2 separate regions of the Homo sapiens genome follow, and region 1 is linked to region 2. Evidence: fine-mapped expression QTL. A gene starts in region 2. The other region holds a variant in brackets. All regions are shown on one strand. Distances are between the middles of the regions. Region 1 overlaps STAU2 (staufen double-stranded RNA binding protein 2). Region 2 holds the start of STAU2 (staufen double-stranded RNA binding protein 2).

Region 1 (9,774 bases), 110 kb after region 2:
ATTGAATAAAATATACTATTAAAGAAAATTTTCAAGTGGATTTAGAAACTCGAACCAGTGAAATTAATGTATCATAGAAAAAATTTTCACTATTAAACTGTTAAATTGTTAAAAACAAGATACTACAATTTAAATAATATCTGTTGAACTTTAACAAGAATTTGTGGGTTTGTTTTTCTTTTTTGTATCAAAATAATGGTTATATTTCATATTAATCTTTAGCAACTAAAATATATTGTGGCATCTTCTTATGGAATCATTTGTATGTTCAACAAGCAGTTTTTTATGTTTTCAGAAATAGTTGATATCATTTCATATTAATCAACTATTTCTGTTGCAACACTGACTGGTATTGCTTACACCATATTAAAAAACACATTTTTTTAAATCAATTTTTTACTACTTGTACCAACTAAATCTAGTAAGAATATGACTCAGGTCATGTGATCATTTCATATTAATCTTTAGCAACTAAAATATATTGTGGCATCTTCTTATGGAATCATTTGTATGTTCAACAAGCAATTTTTTATGTTTTCAGAAATAGTTGATATCATTCAGTTTGGACAGTAATAACAGAGGTACCTAATGAGTTTTTAAAAACAGGTAAGCATGGGACAGTGACTGAATTTAAGAATGTCTTGGAAAATATTAAGTCTAGAACTTTAGTGGGTGGAATTTTATTAGACTGCCAGTGAAATTGCAATTATATTTGAAGTTACTCTGATGGACTCTTTTTAAAAAAAAAAAAAAAAAAGAATATTTCAAATGACCTGGGTTATATTCTTACTAGATTTAGTTGGTACAACTAGTAAAAAATTGATTTAAAAAAATAAGTGTTTTTTAATATGGTGTAAGCAATACACAGTCACTGTTGGGATAGAAATAGCTATTATTTGAAAAAGGGAGAGGAGTCAGTTTCCTATAGTCATATAGGTTTGTAAAATGCTGGATCAAGGAAAATTTAAACGTTTTCTTATTGTAGAAGTTCTCAGAGCCTTTACTTTTTTATTTTTGTGGGTATTTAATTTTTTGTATTTATTTTATACAGTATAAAATATAAAAAATTCAAATATTAATGTAAATACTATGCCACCCCTGCATTCCAGTTACCCAATTTTGCCCCTGCCCCTGCCAGTTTCATGTATTATCCTTTCAGGATATTCTCTGGATATGTATATGTATATGTATTTACTTTAAGAAAGTATCATTCTGTAATAGTATTCCGAATCTGTTTTTTTTTCCTTTGAAAAATACCTTAAACAGCATTCCATGTCAGTATGTAAGAAGCTGCATTATTTTTTCTAAACTGATTATGAAAATTTTAGAAACCCTGCAACCATATAGGTCTATTTAACTCCCACCCCATATATAGATGTCATTTGTATTACATTTATATAGATCATAACTTCCACAATGTTATGATTTTTTGCTTTAGTCTATATCTTAAAGAAATTAAGAGAAAAAGGTCTTGAATTTATTTGCCCACATATCTATCATTTCCCTTTTTTTGTTTTGTTTTTGTGTTTGTGTTTGTTTTTGTTTTTGTTTTCTCTGAAGATCCAGATTTCTGTCTGGCTTTACTTCTCTTCAGTTTGAACACCCTTTAGTATTTCCTGTAGTGCAGGTCTTCTGGCAATGATTTCTCTGAATTTTTGTTTACTGAAAACATCTTTATTTTGCCTTCAGTTTTGAAGATATTTTCATTGAATATAGAATTCGGAGTTGACAGTTTTTCTTTTTTTTCTTTTCTTTTTTTTTTTTTTTTTTTTTTTTTTTTACTTTCAGCACTTTATAAAGACTTTAAAGATGTTGTTCCACTTGTCTCCTGGCCTCAGATTTTTTCTCTTGAGAAGTCATCCATCATTTGAATTGTTGCTCCCCATAAATAATATGTCTTTTTAGCTTTTAGCAGTTAAACTATAACATATCTTGTGTGGTTTTCTTTATATTAATCTAGTTCACTGAGCTTCTTGAATATGTAAATATGCCTTTTACCAAAGGAAATTTTTGGGTCTTAGGTCTTTTAATATTTTTCTGTTCCCCCCTTTTCCTCCTCTCCTTCTGTTAGACCTTTTTTTTAATTTTAATTATTTTTAATTTTGTCTAACAGGTCCCTAAGCTTCAGTTCATTTTTTTAACTTCTTTTTTTCTAATAGTTAGGTAGTATAATTTCTGTTGATTAATCTTAATTCCTTGGTCATCTCCTTTTGGCTATTATGTCTATCCAGTGAATTTTAAATTTGAATATCATATTCTAGAATTTGTTTGGCTACTTTTTATAATTACTGTTCTCTGCTGAAATTCTCCATACATTTATTCATTAAAAGCATATTTTCTTTGATCTCTTTGAACATAGTATAACTTTGCTGTTAGTTCCTTTTTTTTTTTTTTTGAATACAGAGTCTCCTCTGTCACCCAGGCTGGAGTGCGGTGGTGTGATCTTGGCTCACTGTAACCTCTGCCTCCCAGGTTCAAGCGATTCTCATGCCTCAGCCTCCTGAGTAGCTGGGATTACAGCTGTGTGCCACCACACTCGGCTAATTCTTATATTTTTAGTAGAGACAGGATTTTGCCATGTTGGTGAGGCTGGTCTCGAACTCATAGCCTCAAGTGACCCACCCACCCCAGCCTACCAAAGTGCTGGGATTACAGGCATGAGCCACCACACCCGGCCCTTTGCTGCTAATTCTAACATCTCGGTCATTTCAGGGTAGTTTTCTGCTTACAGTTTTTTTTCTCTTGAGAATGGATCATTTTTTCCTGTTTCATATGTTGAATAATTTTGGATTGTATTCTGGACATTGTAAAATTATATGTTGTAGAACCTAGATTCTATTATGTTCCTGTGAAGTGTGTGTATGTGTGTGTGTGTATGTTTTAGACAGGCCCTCACTCTGTCACCCAGGCTGGAGTGCAGTGGTGCAATCTTGGCTCACTGCAACCTCCACCTCCCAGGCTCAGGTGATCCCCCCACCTCCGCCTCCTGAGTAGCTAGGACTATAGGCACATGCTGCCATGCCCAGCTAATTTTTTGTAGATATGGGGTTTTGTTGTCTTATCTTTATAGATATGGGGTTTTGCTATGTTGCCCAGCCTGGTCTCTAACTCCTGGGTTCAAGCAATCTTCCCGCCTTGGCCTCCCAAAGGTGTTAGGATTATAGGCGTGAGCCACTATGCCTGGCCAAAAAAATTTTTTAGGCAGGCAGTTAGTTGGCTGGGGTCTCAACAAAACTTTTCTGCATTGGGTGGCAGGCACCTCAAATTCTAATCTCGTAGCTAAATTTCTTTGAATTGGTTCCAGGGGTGTGTGTGTGTGTGTGTGTGTGTGTGTGTGTGTGTGTGTGTGGTTCAGGGGTCAGATAGAGATTCGAACAGTTTTATACATAGAATATGAAGCTCCCTCTCTCTCCAGATTATTTATTTATTTATTTAGACGGAGCCTTACTCTGTTGCCCAAGCTGGAGTGCAGTGGCGCGGTCTCGGCTCACTGCAACCTCTGCCTCCTGGGTTCAAGCAATTCTTCTGCCTCAGCCTCCCGAGTAGCTGGGATTACAGTTGCCTGCCACCATGCCTGGCTAATTTTTAAATTTTTAATAGAGATGGGGTTTCACCATATTGGCCAGGCTGGTCTCAAACTCCTGACCTCATGATCCACCCACCTTGGCCTCCAAAAGTGCTGGGATTACAGGCATGAGCCACCGCCCTCGGCCTCAGATTTTTATTTCTAATATTTCCTCCTCCATATTCCAGGGGCTTTGGAATATGAGCCCTTATCGCTGGGTCTTCAAACCAGTATGACTATTTTCCAGTGGCATTTTAGCTATTTCACATGGAATAGATGGGCTTGCCTTCAAATTCAAGCTATTAAAAGAAAAAAAAGGGAGAGAAATGCATCCTATGCTGTTCTTTTTTTCCAGATGTTAACTTGCCTCCAGTGTCCACCTGTTTCATTGACTTTTTGGTACCTTTAGATGATTGTTTTTTTACAGTTTGTTCAGAATTTATTGTTTCCTGCAGGAGAATCAGTTCAGTGAGAGTTTACTTGGCCATACTGGAAATAGGGTTACTGCTTTATTTATTTAAGAACGGTTTAGTATCCCACTGTGTGATTTCTCTGTAATTTATTTAACTTCTTAGTCCTGTATTCATGGACATTTAGTTGTTTTGAATCTTCTGATGTTATCAGTGTTGCAGAATGTATCTTTATACATACACGTGGTGAGACATTCTTATGGGTACTTGGAGTACATCAACAGACATTTCTGTCCTCATGAAGTGTACATTCTAGTTGGGGGAGATAGAAAATAAAAAATAAATACAAGTACATTGTATAGTAGATTAGAAAGTGAAAAGTGCTTATATAGGAAGAATAGAGCCCTGTTTGAGTAAAAGGATGGGAATCACAATTTGAATTAGGTCTTGCTGAGAGGTGAGATTTGAGCGAAGACTTTAAGAAGGTGAGAGAGTGAGCCTTGAGGATGTCTGAGGGAGAAGCAGGAGATCAGCCATTGTAAAGGCCCTAACGTGGAGGCTTATATGGTGAGTTTGAGGAGCAGAAAGGAGACTAGTGTGGCTAGAGAAGAGTAAGTGAAGAGGTGAGTGGTAGAAGAAGCCAGAGATGTGACTGGGAGCCTGATTTATGTAAGGCCTTGTAGGCCATTGTAAAGATTCTGGCTACTATGAATGAAATGCAAAACCAATGTAGGTTTTTTTATTTTTTGTTTTTTTGAGACGGTGTCTCACTCTGTTGCCAGGCTGGAGTGCAGTGGCGCAATCTCAGCTTACTATGTCTTCTGCCTCCCAGGTTCAAATGATTCTCCTGCCTCAGCCTCCCAAGGAGCTGGGATTACAGGTGTGTGCCACCACACCCAGCTAATTTTTGTATTTTTAGTGGAGATGGGGTTTCACCATGTTGACCAGGATGGTCTCAATCTCTTGACCTCGTGATCCGCCCACCCCGGCCAACGCAGGTTTTGAGCAAAAAATAAATAAATAAATAAATAAAAAC[C/T]GTTTTGCTGATTAAGAGAGCAGTTGGGAGGTTATTACAATAATCTAGACTAGAGACGAGGCTGTTTTGAATGTTTTGGAGTTTTTTACCAATATAATTAGGTGAAGAATGATACCTCTTTGGCATTTTAATTTGCATTTCTTTGATTATGAATGAGGTCAAACATCTTCTCATATGCATAAAATCATTTATATTTCCTTTTCTGTGGTCTGTAAGTGTATAACCTGTGCTAGTTTTTGTGCTGATTCAGTAGTCTTTTTCTTTTTTTTGAGATGGAGTCTCGCTTTGTCACTCAGGCTGGAGTTCCGTGGCATGATCTCGGCTCACTGCAACTTCTGTCTCTTGGGATCAAGCAGTTCTGCCTCAGCCTCCTGAGTAGCTGGGATTACAGGCACCCACCACCACGCCTGGCTAATTTTTGTATTTTTAGTAGAAATGGGGTTTCACCATGTTGTCCAGACTGGTCTTGAACTCCTGGCCTCAGGTGATCCAGCCGCCTCGGCCTCCCAAAGTGTTGGGATTACAAGCATGAGCCACCGTGCCTGGCCTCAGTGGTCTTTTTCTTACTGACTTGTCCTCAGTATTTTTTAAAGCTCCTCATGTACTTCCGGTATATAGGCAAAGATGAAACCACTGATCTAGCCCATCCTCATCTTGTAGCCGCCTCAAGGTCAGATCATGCCCAATGTTAAGAGGTACTTGGAGTCTATAGTCACAAAGTACATTCACTCCCAGCACTTCCCCATTCAGATCTCACATGCATCCTTTCACTTTGAACTTGTCCTTCTGCTAGTCCTGATTGCTTTACTCCCACATAGCTGAGAACCTGGCCCTTGCTGGTCCTGTCTCTCCCTTGCAATCATTCACTTTTAAGTTGAGAGGAATATAGTAATGTAGTATTGAGGTTAGGGGGTGCTGTGGAGCCACTCTATCTTCATTTGAAACCTGGTTCCGCCTAGGCCAAGCAACTTATCTTCTCTGTTTTTCAGTTTCCTCAACTGTAAAATGGAAATGATAACAATATGTATTTGCCTTATCAGGCTATTGTGAGGATTAGATGAGTTACTGCATGCTCAGTGCCGGCATATAGTAAACCACTCAGTAATTGTTAGCTATAACCTCTCCTTCATTTAACAGATATGTAGTGGACTCCTTTTAAGTGCTAGGTATCATGCTGGATACCATACACTAGGGCTGCAGTGAATACAACTCCCTTTTTCCCTGTGTATAAGCAGAAATTGTCCCTTTTGTAGCCTTCCTAGAACACTATTCCTGGAATAGCATGCGTATCATTTACTCTAAACTTTTCCCTTTGTTGAGGAACTATGAGGTCTAATACAGGGTTCTCAAGCATTTGCAGGGGAGTCTGGCCTTTCTAAATTTGAGAAGTAACAGGATATACTTATTTTGATTATATTAGAATTACATTTTGATTAAACAAGAGTCAAGTGACAACTAAGATTATAAGTTTAGCTCTTCATCTGTTTGATTTTATCATGAGTTCACCAGCTCTGAAGTGTTCAGTTTCTGGCCAGAATTTCTTATGCATAACTGGGGTGATTTTAGCTTCCTGAGAGATCACCATGGTCATACTCTTGTCAGTCTTGATCACTCTCCTGCTTTGGAGTTCTCAGTCTTATAAGCTCAGATTGTATTGCAGGTTTCTAAGTCTCATAAGAAGTGTCATCCTCTGCAAATAGGATTATATGGTCTTATTTGCAAACCCTTTTTTGTTCTCTTGAGTGACTTTTTCAGGATAACAAAGAGAACAATAAGTAAAATTTGCTTAAGATGCATTCTTTCTTTACTCCCATGTGGGTCTCAGATTTTCAGAATTCTCCATGTTGATTCCTCAAATACTTAAGGAACCTTATATACACTGGGTTTGAATGACTTATTGGTTTGCTTGACATCCTGTCTTTGTAAGAGTATGTGGCAGGCTTTCTCCAAATCAATAAAGGCAGCAAGACTTTTTTTTTTTTTAATGTACTGAACTTAATAGTTGTTTACATACTCATTTTAAAATGGAAATAAAACTATCTTATATTCTGATCTTTTCTAAATCCAAATCAGTTCTTTATGTCAGCTTTCAATCGTCTATATTTCTAATGCAATATAATACAATATTCTTAATATCATACCTACTGTCAGCAAGTATTTTTTGCCCTTGTTCTCTTGCTCGTGTTCGTGTGCTGTCTCTCTCTCCTTTCCTCCCTCTGTCTTCCTCCCTCCCTCCCTCCCTCTCCTCCCCCCTTCTTGCCTCGTCCTTATCCCTCCTCTCTCTCATTGAGATAAAAATGAGCAACTTCAGCTTTTTGGCTGTTCTCTTTTGCGGGTGGGTAAGATTTAGGATCGTAGGCAGTAATATTTGGACTATATATTTAATCATCTCAGGTATTATTCTCATCATGGCTTACTGCTTTTCTCAGTTTGAGTTTCCTGGGAGCTTATTATTCATTAATTTCCCAGGCTTTTTCTTGGCTTCAGTTACAAGGACCTTGACCAACTTGCTTTATTTATTTCCTTATGATTTGTTGACATTCTCATGTTCTCTGGTCAAGATGCACTTCTTTAAAGATAAATGAGTTACTAGACTCCTGTACTGTAATTGACTGACAGGTCACAGAACAGTCTATACAGAACAGTCTGTGTAGAACAGAACCCCAAACATGTAAATAAATGGCCTTTACAATTTTTAAAAATTGTAGTAATGTTATTTATTATTTTACATTAAATTCTTCCAGAGGCTTATTTAGTTGATTTCTACTGGTTTTTATAGTATCTGAATTTATCAGCTTATCTTCTGCACACTGCTTGGTGTTTTGAACTGCATTGGTGTTCATTTTTTATTCCTCTTTTTTTTTTTTTTAAGAGATGAGGTCTCACTCTATTGCCTAGGCTGGAGTGCAGTGGTACTCAAACCGCAAGGGTACATTTGATGCTGAGCTCACTGTACCCTTGAATTCCTGGGCTCAAGCAATGCTCCTGCCTCCGCTTCTGAGTAGCTGGAACTACAAGGGTGTACCACCATGCCCAGATAATTTTTTATGTTTTTTGTAGAGACAGTCTTGCTATTTTGGCAAGGCTGGTCTCAAACTCCTGGCCTCAAGTGATCCTCCTGCCTTGGCCTCCTAAAGTGCTGGGATTATAGGTGTGAGCCACTGTGCCTGGCCTAGATTGGCATTCTTGAGTGACCAATGAACCAAATGTCAGATCTCCTAGACAGGCATGAAGTGATGTTCTCCCGGGTATGGTACAAGCGCTAATGGGAAACTAGGGGTGCCACTGAGCGTGTGAAATGAAAGTCTAGAGATTCTGCCAGCATAACCACAGCTAAGGGTATTCTTTACAGGGAATAACCAAAAGCTTTAGAGATGCTGCAGCTTCATAGAAACATTGTAGAATATCAAAGAAGGCTGATGGATTAGTTGTCAAGAGGGAAAGAGGCCAACAACTATGATTTCCTGGGGCTACTATGTTCTGACACAGCATGTATCTTGCATAGGGTGACACAGCTAGTAAAGGGCTGAGCTGGCCCTCCAGCCCAGGAGTAATATGTCATCAAAGCTCGTGCTTTTTCTGCTATGCTACACTAACTCATGTCAACATCCACTCTTTGGGAATAGTAGGATGTCATGATGACTGAGTTATTTCAGAATATCTTCAAAAACTATTTTGTCCACAGAAAAGAATGTCTTTGGCCACACTTTGTATTTAGTGTGACTAAAATACACGTATCTGTATTGTGAACAGGAGTAAACCATCATAACCCGAGGCCAAAACTGTTAGCCTTTCAAAGCTCTAAGTATTACTTCAGCCTCTTCCTATGTGTGGTAGTCAGACTGGATATCAATATTGTCTCTACCAATATCATCTCCCTTATTTGTTGCTGTGTTTTACCTCAGGGTACATGGCAAAGATAAAGAGGATTGGATAGTTCTCAGCTTAGTGTGCATCCTGGAATAAGAGACAGTTCACACTGACTAACCGATGTAAAAGCATACCTTGCGTATCTGCAGCAATGCAGGAAAAGGAGAGCATAGGTAATTGAAATCCACATAGTGCATTCCCCAGAGGATTTGTGCAGGAAAAATTTTACAAATTAATTTAAAATGACTGAAAATTATAAATTGTTTAACGTTAATCCAAGGTACTTTAAAAGTGGAAGAGTTTTCTTAAAGTTCCAAGTACTGTACTATTTTAGCAAATGTTGCTTTTTTTACACTTTTAATATTAAACAGTATGAAAGGATCCAGGTAGTTGAGCAAAGTTCATTTTCCTATTTCTTTGAAAAGCATCTCTATAAAACATAAAAATAAAAAAAAATTAGCCAAGTGTGGTAGTGCACGCCTGTGGTTCCTGTTACTTGGGAGGATTGCTTGAGCCTTGAAAGTTGAGGCTGCAGTGAGGCATAATCGCACGACTACACTTCAGCCTGGGTGACAGAGGGAGACCCTGCCTCAAAAAAGAAAAGTGGGCTTCGAGTCAGACAGTGGTATTGGCTCCAGAGCATCTGTATAATTCCAGTAAATCATCTGGTTTGGATTGTAATGAACCCCCCAAAGTGTGTTACTCATAGCCGAAGAAATTTCTAAGACCCTTAAATGATTACTGTCAATAATCTGAGACTATTTGCATTGCCTAAAATCTGACAGGAGATCTCCATGTGGCAGTTCCAGCTAATAAATTATATTTCTACTTTTAGTTTCTACGAAGCTACTTTAAAACCCTGCAATTTTTTTAAAACATACGTGTCCTTCTAA
Region 2 (9,774 bases):
TAAGTCCCAGAGAAACAAAGAAGAGAAAGTCATTGTTGTTGCCTTCAAGGAGCTTAAGATATAGTAGAAGAAACACATAAATAGTGTGTAGTGATAAAAATAAATTCAGGGCCATGCAGTGGCTCATTCCTGTAATGCCAGCACTTTGGGAGGCCGAGGAGGGCAGATAACTTGAGGCCCGGAGTTCAAGACCAGTCTGGGCAACATGGCAAAACAAACTGTCTCTACCAAAAATACAAAAATTAGCCAAGCCTGATGGCACATGCCTGTAATCCCAGCTACTCAGAAGGCTGAGGCATGAGAATCGCTTGCACCCTGCAGGCAGAGGTTGCAGTGAACCAAGATTGTACCACTGTACTCTAACCTGGGCGAGAGCAAGAACTCTGTCTCAAAAAAAGAATTTAAAAAAATTCAGATATCATCAATAAAGGAGGGTAACTTCTATGGTGGGTGCTGGGGGCTAGATGAATTTTACAGGAAAATAAATGTCAAGAAAAGGGCATCATAATATAAGATATAATATAAGAAAGAAGAGGACATAGAAGGAAACTGGAGTTTGTGATTCTGGAATCTGTCCCATTCAAACTGCTCAAATCCGATAATGGTGAATTTGAAAGCATTATCTTTTTCCTGATGCTTGAACATTTCACTGCAATGGTGACTGGTAAAAATGTGTTGATAAAACAGACGCTTTTTAAAAAAAAATTTAATTTTAAATTTATTTTTAATTAAATGGAGGTGGGGTCTCACTTTACTGCCCACGCTGGTTTCAAACCCCTGGTTTCAAGAGATCCTCCCTCTTTGGCTTTTCAAAGTGCTGGGATTACAGGCATGAGCCACTGCGCCTGGCCTCATTTGCTTTAATCAGCTGCCTATTAATAGGCCCACTGTTCTTTATTTATTTATATTTTTTGATACAGGGTCTTTCTTTGTGGCCCTGGCTGGAGTGCAGTAGTGTGATCTCAGCTCACTCCAACCTCTGCCTCCCAGGCTCAAGTGATCCTCCCACCTCAGCCTCCTGAGTAGCTGGGACTACAAGCACGCACCACCACGCCCAGGTAGTTTTTCTAATTTTAGTAGAGATGGGGTTTTTGCCATTTTGCCCAGGCTGGTCTCGAACTCCTGACTTCAGGTGATACGCTAGCCTCCCAAAGTGCTGGGATTATAGACGTGAGCCACCACAGCCGGCTGGCCCACCGCTCTTTAAATATTCATTATTTTCAACTCCTATACAAATATTTTATTTTAAAGTAAATCCTAAAATGATTGTAGAGTGATGTGTGGATTTCCATGTCACTCAGGTGATTTCATGTACTGATACTATATACCTTGAGCAACTGAAAGTGCTGATTCAATTAAAAAACAATTTCCTTTCTGATAATTGTGACTTAGAAAAATTCATTCTATTTGGGGTTTACCAATGACTGAAAATCAGTTATGAGGAACAGTTACGGGAGGGATAAAGTTTTCAATTAACTTTAAGGATCTGAATCAAAGAGAATGAAATCTGACCACCCCAGAGTTCTTTCCAAAAGTATAAACTCATCCATTTATACCAAAGGATTTACCGTCCACCTACTTGCTGTTGGATGCTGGGACTACAGATATGCATGAGACACAGAGCCTGCCCTTCAACAATGCAATGTTTGGTAGATACAGACAGGCTAAAAAAAAAAATTCTAACATACCTACAATATCAGAGAAGAGAGGTACAAGAGAAGAGCACTCGCCTGCTCAGAGGAGTGTTAGAGAATGCCTCTCAAGGAGGTGATTTTTTTTCTTTTTTTTCTTGAGATGGAGTCTTGCTCTGCTGCCCAGGCTAGAGTGCAGTGGCTCGAACTCAGCTCACTGCAACCTCTGCCTCCCGAGTTCAAGCAATTCTCCTGCCTCAGCCTCCCAAGTAGCTGGGATTACAGGTGTGTGCCACCACGCCCAGCTAATTTTTGTATTTTTAGTAGAGATGGAGTTTCACCATGTTGGCCAGGCTGGTCTCAAACTCGTGACCTCGTGGTCTGCCCGCTTCGGCCTCCCGAAGTGCTGAGGTTACAGGTGTGAGCCACCACACCCGGCCAAGAAGGTGATTTTTGAATGCCGTGAAAGATTATTTGTTCACCAGGCGAGAGAAGGGTAGCCTGAAGGGAGAGAGAATAGCCTATGGAAAGACACAGAGGTAGGCAGCTTGACCCTTGGTATGGCTGGTGGGAAAGTAAGGTATTCATTCAAAATATTCAACAATTTCTGGTCAACTTCTTTCAGTCAATGATGGACAGGTGGACTGCATATACAACGGTGGTCCCATAAGATTATACAGTTCTTTAAGCCGGGCGCCTGCAATCCCAGCACTTTGGGAGGCCGAGGTGGTGGGGAGGGGCGGGGGGGGGGGGGGCCGGCGGGGAATCACTTGAGGTCAAGAGTTCGAGACCAGCGTGGCCAACATGGTCAAACCCCGTCTCTACTAAAAATACAAAAATTAGCTGGACGTGGTGGCATGTGCCTGTAATCCCAGCTACCAGGGAGGCTGAGGCAGGAAAATTGCTTGAACTCGGGAGGTGGAGGTTGCAGTGAGCTGAGATTGTGCTACTGCATTTCAGCCTGGGTGACAGAGCGAGACTTCGTCTCAAAAAAAAAAAAGATTATATAGTTCTTTTACTGTAGGTTTTCTGTTTAGGTACAAATACCCTTGTGTTGCAAAATTGCCTACAGTATTAGTACAGTAACACACTGTACAGGTTTGCAGCCTAGGCGCAATAGCTATATACCATATAGCCAAAGCAAGTAGTTGGCTAGACTACCTAGGTTTGCGTAAGAACACGCTATGATGTGCGCAAAACAACAAAAATCGCTTAATGACACGTTCCTCAGAACATATCCTTGTGGCTAGGTAAGGCATGACTGTATTAGAATGCTGACTGGGTGCGTAAGCCGCTAGAAGGAGCACAGCAAATTTAGGGAGGATGCAACATGTTAAATCCGAGGGAACTGGCAGAGGTGAAAAGGGGGGAAAGGAGCATAGGAAAGAGTTCTGGGAGGAAAAATATAGCTGTAGCTAACATTGTACCAGGAGAGGTACTACATACCCGGTCCTATTTAAAGGGCTTCATATGTATTGTCACATTTAAATACGAACTATCTATCACATGTAGTCTCCTCTTGATGCACAGGATAAGTAACATGCCCGTGGTCTCCTCACCAGTTAGCAAGCGGATATCCAGCCTTGGTTATCTGACTCTGGCGCCCTTGCGGTTAACCAGGACACACACTACCTTCCCAGGTGCAGACATGAGATTGGTTTTAGATGATGACTGAAATCACCGGCCTGGGAGACATTTCTCAGTCAGAGAAGTGACACTGGGAAGAAACCCTAGAAATAACGTTGCAAACGAGTAAGTTTGTGAAAACACACTAATAGTTCTATTTCGAAATTTCTTTGTCAGATTATTTTTGGTGCCGGTTACTAAACGAAGTGTTCAGTTTCATTGAGCTTAACTGGGTTGAAGTTATCTAGACAAAAGTAATCCACATCAAAACCAGGACGAATTAAGACGTAATTTCTGTTTTCTGGCACTCTTGCCTCATAAATCTAGGATTCAGGGCATTGTTTTCAATGGTTCTCATTTTTGGCTCCAAGGATTCTTTTTCATGTGACTAATATTTTCGGTAGAAGAGGAGGTCTGGCCACGCCGCGGGTCTTGGCGAGCAGGTGATCACGGATCCCTGGTGTTTGCTGGGCGAGACGGTGAAGCAACCTCCTCCCCGCCCCCTCCCCCGTCTAGAAAGGTGCAAGATCCGCTAAACCGTGCGTTGCACAGCGGCGGCCGGAGCAGACGCGGGATGGTCGCGCGTCCCCTGCACAGCACAGAGGGGCAGCCGGAGAGCCTGGGAAAGGTACGAGCGGGGAATCAGAGCACAGGGTGCGGACCAGAAAGAGCAGACGGTCAGTCGGGCGGGGAAGGAAGTTGCCGAGTTGCAGGTGTGGAAGGGGCTGCCCCAGGCCCACCCTTGGCAGACGAGGGGGCGGGGAGTCGCGCCGGGGACGAGGAGACTGCGGACCGGGCGCGCTCCTTGCGCAGTCGCTCGCCCGCGTGCCCAAGCCCCCCGGGAATGGCCCTCGCCCAGGGGCCCAGCTCGCCGCCGCTAGCCCCGCAGAGCCTGCAGCTGCTGGGGCCCGGCAGCCGCCAGGGGGCGGGAGCTGCGTCGCGAACAATGGCCGCGCTTGGTCGCGGGCCGGCGGGAGGCGGAGTGGAGGTAGAGCCGGTGCCGGGCGCGCGCGCCGGCCGGGCGTGCTGGGGCGCGGGAGCGGCTGCGCAGGCGGGGGCGCGCGGCGCGAGCGCGGGAGGGCGCGGCGGGAGCGCCGGGGAGGCGGGCGGAGGCGGGCGGAGGCGGGGGGCGGGGAGCCCGAGGGGTGGAAGCCGGCGGCGGCCGAGCGGGGTCAGTTCTCTGTAGTGTTTGCCAATGTTGGAGCCGTCTGCAAAGTGTCCCCGGCAAGAAGGTAAATACCCTCATCGGGGGCGTCCGGGAGACCCCGACTTCCGCGCCGCCGGCGAAGAAGGCAGAGGGCGCTGGGGAGCCCTGCAGTTCCGCAGCACGGGGAACCCGGAGAAAAGCAGCCCCCTTCGCGGCCTCCCCTCCCCCGCGCCTTCCCTCCCACATCGGGCTCTCGGGGCAGCAGCGGGGAGGGGAGACCGGCGGGGGAGGGAGGACAGGGAGGCGAAGGAATTGGGGTGGGGGGTGCGTGTGTGGTGGAGGGGGTGGGACGACACAGGTGTCCTGAGGGGAGGAGCCGGGAGGAAGGCGAGGAGGCCGGGCCAAGTGGGGGTGCGGAGGTCGGGGAGACAGGAACGCGGCTGCGGGCGCGGGAGGCTGGGGTTCTAGGGGGCCGGGGTGGTAGCGGCCGGAAGAGAGGACGGCGAGTGCAGCCACGGTGTGGCTGCGAGGGAGAGGGAGCGCCTAGAGTAGGGCAGGGGAGGGCGGCCCGGGGAGGGTCTGCGGGAAATGGGCCTGGGGGCGCTGGAGGCGGAGCGGCGGGGCCGGGGCGCGCCGGAGGGTGGCGGCGGCAGCTATTTCTGTAGAATGGGCTAGTGGTAAAGACGTAACTTGCCGAAATGGGGAGGGTAGGTGGGGCCGAGGGGACAAAATATATCCTATGACAGGCAAGTTCTGCTGTGGCTGTTACGAACTCCTACCGTGATGGCTCGGCTTAAAGGGGTAGTTGGCGGTAGTGACCTTGCCGGGGTGAAGGGAGTTGGGCGAGGAGACAAAGCTCAGTTACGGAATCCGCTGTGTGAGAGCAGGAACTCTAGTCTCTTCGGGGTCGAGCCGGGGGCTGTGGCTTGGGGGCTGGGGGTGCTCCGCAGAGGCCATTGAGAAGCACGCCACTCTGGGATTCTTAGGGAGGCGGTGGGGGTAATGGCCGTGGGATTCTGGAAGTCTTTGGAAATGTGTGTAGAATTTTGCATTTGTGAATAATTTTCTTTGGTAAGGGTCCATATTTGCTGTGATGTCCCCTTACCCCCATCCCCACTCCAAAGGGTTAAGAACTGCTTGAGCAGATAGAGAGGGACCATTCAATTAGGGTAGACCTGGGAATTTACCAAAGGATTTTAAAGTGGGTGGATCCTGCAGAAAGAAAGGCTAGAGATGATCCTTTAAAGATATTTTACTGTTAATTGAAAACGTTTTTTATTTAATGTTTGCTTTCACAATTTTGGTGAACTTTTGCTGAGCATTACTTGGCTTCTGATGCATCCTGTGTTTCAGACCAGCATCGTGAATACTTGAAATCAAAATTGTGATGGACAGGCAGGGTGATAGTAACCTTGGAGGAGAAAAGATTTCAACATTTCTCCAGGATATTTCTTCCCCGTCCTTGCTTTCTTTAGATGATTCAAGTACACTGTTGTGAACTCAGCTGCGGTGGAAAAATCTTATTTAATAAAACTACCAAAACCAAGACTTACTCTCCATCTCTGTTTTGTAGTATGGCCAGATTTTCATTGTTCAGTTTGTATCTTACTGCAAACAAGAGATATCACATAACACTTTAATTGTAGATTGCTGCATTTTGCAGCAGGCCTGTATTAAATTTGCGAAGCAGTTATGCCAAACTATCTGGTGTGTTTGTGTTTTCCTGCTATGGTTTCAAGTCAAGTCACTATTGCCATATTTTATTATATGGTAGGCTAGTCTGAAATTTATTCCTAAGTGATGATAAGTTGGTAGGATATGGTACATACTTGCTCACAAATTACTGCATTTTTCCCCATAAAAACCAGTGTTTTGTATTTGTAAGAATGTTGCTGTGTAATCCAAGTATGTATTGTTAATTTCAAATAAAATGCTGTGTAATTTTTAAATTTTAACTTTATTTGGAAATAATTTCAAGCTTACAGACAAATGGCAAGAATAAGAATAATACAAAGAAAATCTTTGTAACCTTTATTCAGATTCACCTGTTAACATTTTATGTATTTATTATTTGCTCTCTATCACACACAAAATATTTTTCCCCTGGACCATTTAAGGGTAAGTTACATACATTGTGATCCTTAACTCCTAAATACTTGAGCTTGGAAAACCATGCAAATTTTACATTTTAGCTTACTTGGCTTGTCTGGAATGAAGTGCTAGGAAGAGTGGCTTGGTTTGCTTTTCAACAAATAGTATGAATATAAAAAAAATCTAAGATAGTCATCAAGCTTTTAAATATACAAACAATCCAGAAATCGAGGCAGAGCGGTTTTCCTGTTTAGGTTCTAGAAGATATGGTAGGTTTTTTTTTTTTTTTCCTTTGTGCCTACCCTTCTCTTTATTCCTATTATTATCTTGTTTTGTGCACGTTCAGTGCTGGGAATCTGATCATTTATAGGTACAGATCATAATAAAGAGGGAAAACTCTAGATACTGCAAAATTGAATTCTCTTAGACTGCATAGTTTGAGACACGCACAGTATGATTATTCACATATAGATATATTTGTGCCTCTTATAGGTACACAAAATACTAGATGTCTAGAATCAGTAATAATTATCATTTTTATTTATGTGTGCATCGTTTGATTTTAAATAATCCTCCCCAAGTTCTATATAGGAGCTTTGCCATTATGTTGTCCTAGAGGTCAAGCCCTTGACTTTGTTCCAGGAAAAATTATAAGAAGGCAAATCTTTTATTTTTCACCAAGCTGATCATAGAAAATAAAAAAAATTGGCCAGGTGGGGTGGCTCATGCCTGTAATCCCAGCACTTTGGGAGGCCGAGGCAGGTGGATCAGGAGGTCAGGAGTTCGAGACCAGCCTGGCCAACATGGTGAAACCCCGTCTCTACTAAAAATACAAAAATTAGCTGGGTGTGGTGGTGCGCGCCTGTAATCCCAGCTACTCGGGAGGCTGAGGCAGGAGAATCGCTTGAACCCGGGAGGCAGAGGTTGCAGTGAGCTGAGATGGCGCCATTGCACTCCAGCCTGGGTGACAGAGTGAGACTCAGTCTCAAAAAAAAAAAAAAATGTCCGGGCATGGTGGCTCATGCTTGTAATCCCAGCACTTTGGGAGGCCGAGGTGGGTGAATCACCTGAGGGTTGGGGGTTCGAGACCAGCCTGACGAACATGGAGAAACCCCGTCTCTACTAAAAATGTAAAATTAGCCGGCCGTGGTGGCGCATGCCTGTAATCGCAGCTACTCAGGAGGCTGAGGCAGGAGAATCATTTGAAACCAGGAGGCGGATCTTGCGGTGAGCCGACATGGTGCCCATTGCACTCCAGCCTGGGCAGCAAGAGTGGAACTCCGTCTCAAAAAAAAAAAAAAAAAAAAAAATTAAAAAGAAGGCAAGTCTTTTTTAATTTGGTGTATAGTGAAGAAAAGACGACTTTGGGCCAGAATGAACCGTTCTAAACCTAGCAATGTGACTGTAGGCAAATAACCCAACCTCTAGAAAAATGGAGATAATGCCTACATCCCAAGATGATGAGGATTAAATGAGTTGATGTAAAAATGGCAAAATGTGGCACCTAGCGTATACAATTGGTGTCTGAAAAATGTTAGTTTCCTTTTTTTTTTTTCTGGCCTGTGTTATTTAGAGTTTTCCACTAGAATAGTTTGTGGCGTAAGACTTCTGTTTTCCTTACATAAAAGCAGTGTTTTTGGGTACCCACTTTGAAAAATCAAAATGAAAAACATTTTAAAAAGCTCTTTAAAGGACCGTATATCTTTTTTAGAGTAATAAGCATTGAATTGATAGTTTTGTAGCAGTTTGTAGTCTAAGAGTAGAGATAGTAAATTTTTTTTGCTTTTCATGTTGTCAAATAAGACATTTAAGTGAGAATTGCCTATCAACTGTAGGATGGGTGCTGATATAAAAAATTTATACATATTTAGTAACAGTGCCGTTTTATAAAGCAGTTTAATTATTGGGGATTATATAGATTTCTGTGCAGCTTTTAATTTCTCAGATGGGCAAAATGTAATTCATAATTAAAGTACGACTTATATCAGCAGTACATTGCAGTTACAGGTTGGGCCATTCTTCATGAGCATCACGTCTTCCCCAGCCGTCTCCCTATAATCCTGCTTGTTTTCATTTAGTAGTTTGGAATCTAGAATTGCCTGTCTTCATATGCCTGACCAGATAGGGCATTTTTGGGACGCATGGATACATTTCTCTAAAAGCGCTTAGTTGTAATTGGAATCAACTGTAGCTGGAAACTTTTGTGATAGAGGAGGTGGATTTTTTTTTTAATTATTTTTATTTTTTGAGATGGAGTCTTACTCTGTCACCCAGGCTAGAGTGCAGTGGCGCAATCTCCACTCACTGCAGCCTCCGCCTCCTGGGTTCAAGCGATTCACCTGCCTCAGCCTCCTGAGTACCTGGACTACAGGTGCGTGCCTCCATGCCTGGCTAATTTTTGTATTTTTAGTAGAGACGATTTTGCCGTGTTCGCCAGGCTAGTCTCGAACTCCTGACCTCAGGTGATCCGTCCGCCTCAGACTCCAAAAGTGCTGGGATTACAGGCGTGAGCCACCACACCCAGCTGAGGAGGTGGATTTTATGAAACCAAAGGTAGTATAAAACTGCTCTGCATTTTATTGATATGTCTTGATATTTTAGCAAATTGTTTAAAATATGTGACAGTAGACTGGGCGTGTCTTTAAAGTAGAAACAGAGTCTTAAAGACGTGCCACTGTGAACATTCTGAATTGTCCATGGTATAATTACAAACTACAATTTTTAAATTGATGTAAATCTAAAATAACTGGTTTGCTTAAAAAAGTATAATTTTCAGAATGTTAGCCAATTACAGAGTGCTGTTATAGACATTAGTTTCATGTGTTTTAATTTCTACAGCTCTTTATATTGTAAAGAAAAGGCTTACAGAATATTTAAATCGTATGGTTAATTTTATGTTCATAAAGTTTTATTTTTTGTTACTTCATGGAATATCTTTTCCGTGTCAGAAGACTAGAAGTTTCGGGCCGGGCGTGGTGGCTCACGCCTGTAATCTTGGCACTTTGGGAGGCCGAGGCAGATGGATCACCCGAGGCCAGGAGTTCGAGACCAGCCTGGCCAACATGGTGAAACCCCGTCTCTACAAAAAATACAAAAATTAGCCAGGCATGGTGGTGTGTACCTGTATCCCCAGCTACTGGGGAGTCTGAGGCAGGAGAATCACTTGAGCCTGGTAGGTGGAGGTTGCAGTGAGCTGAGATTGAGCTGTTGCACTCCACTCTGGGTGACAGGGCAAGACTCCGTCTCAAAAAAAAAGAAAAAAAAAAAGGTTAGAACTTT

The links.
Region 1: its variant is fine-mapped to the expression of STAU2 in whole blood (TOPMed, PIP above 0.99).

Annotation. Positions count from the first base shown.
Region 1 is chr8:73,629,484-73,639,257 of GRCh38, reverse strand. The region is part of intron 6 of STAU2 (staufen double-stranded RNA binding protein 2); the gene reads left to right. Among named protein-coding and RNA genes, the nearest start is that of STAU2, 110 kb to the left of the region's middle. The variant C/T (reference allele first, on the strand shown) is at 5,012.
Region 2 is chr8:73,741,498-73,751,271 of GRCh38, reverse strand. STAU2 (staufen double-stranded RNA binding protein 2) reads left to right here and starts at 4,432. Exons shown (of 15, transcript NM_001164380.2): 1 at 4,432-4,489. RefSeq lists silencers at 3,930-4,219, 4,300-4,389, 4,680-4,859, 4,970-5,029.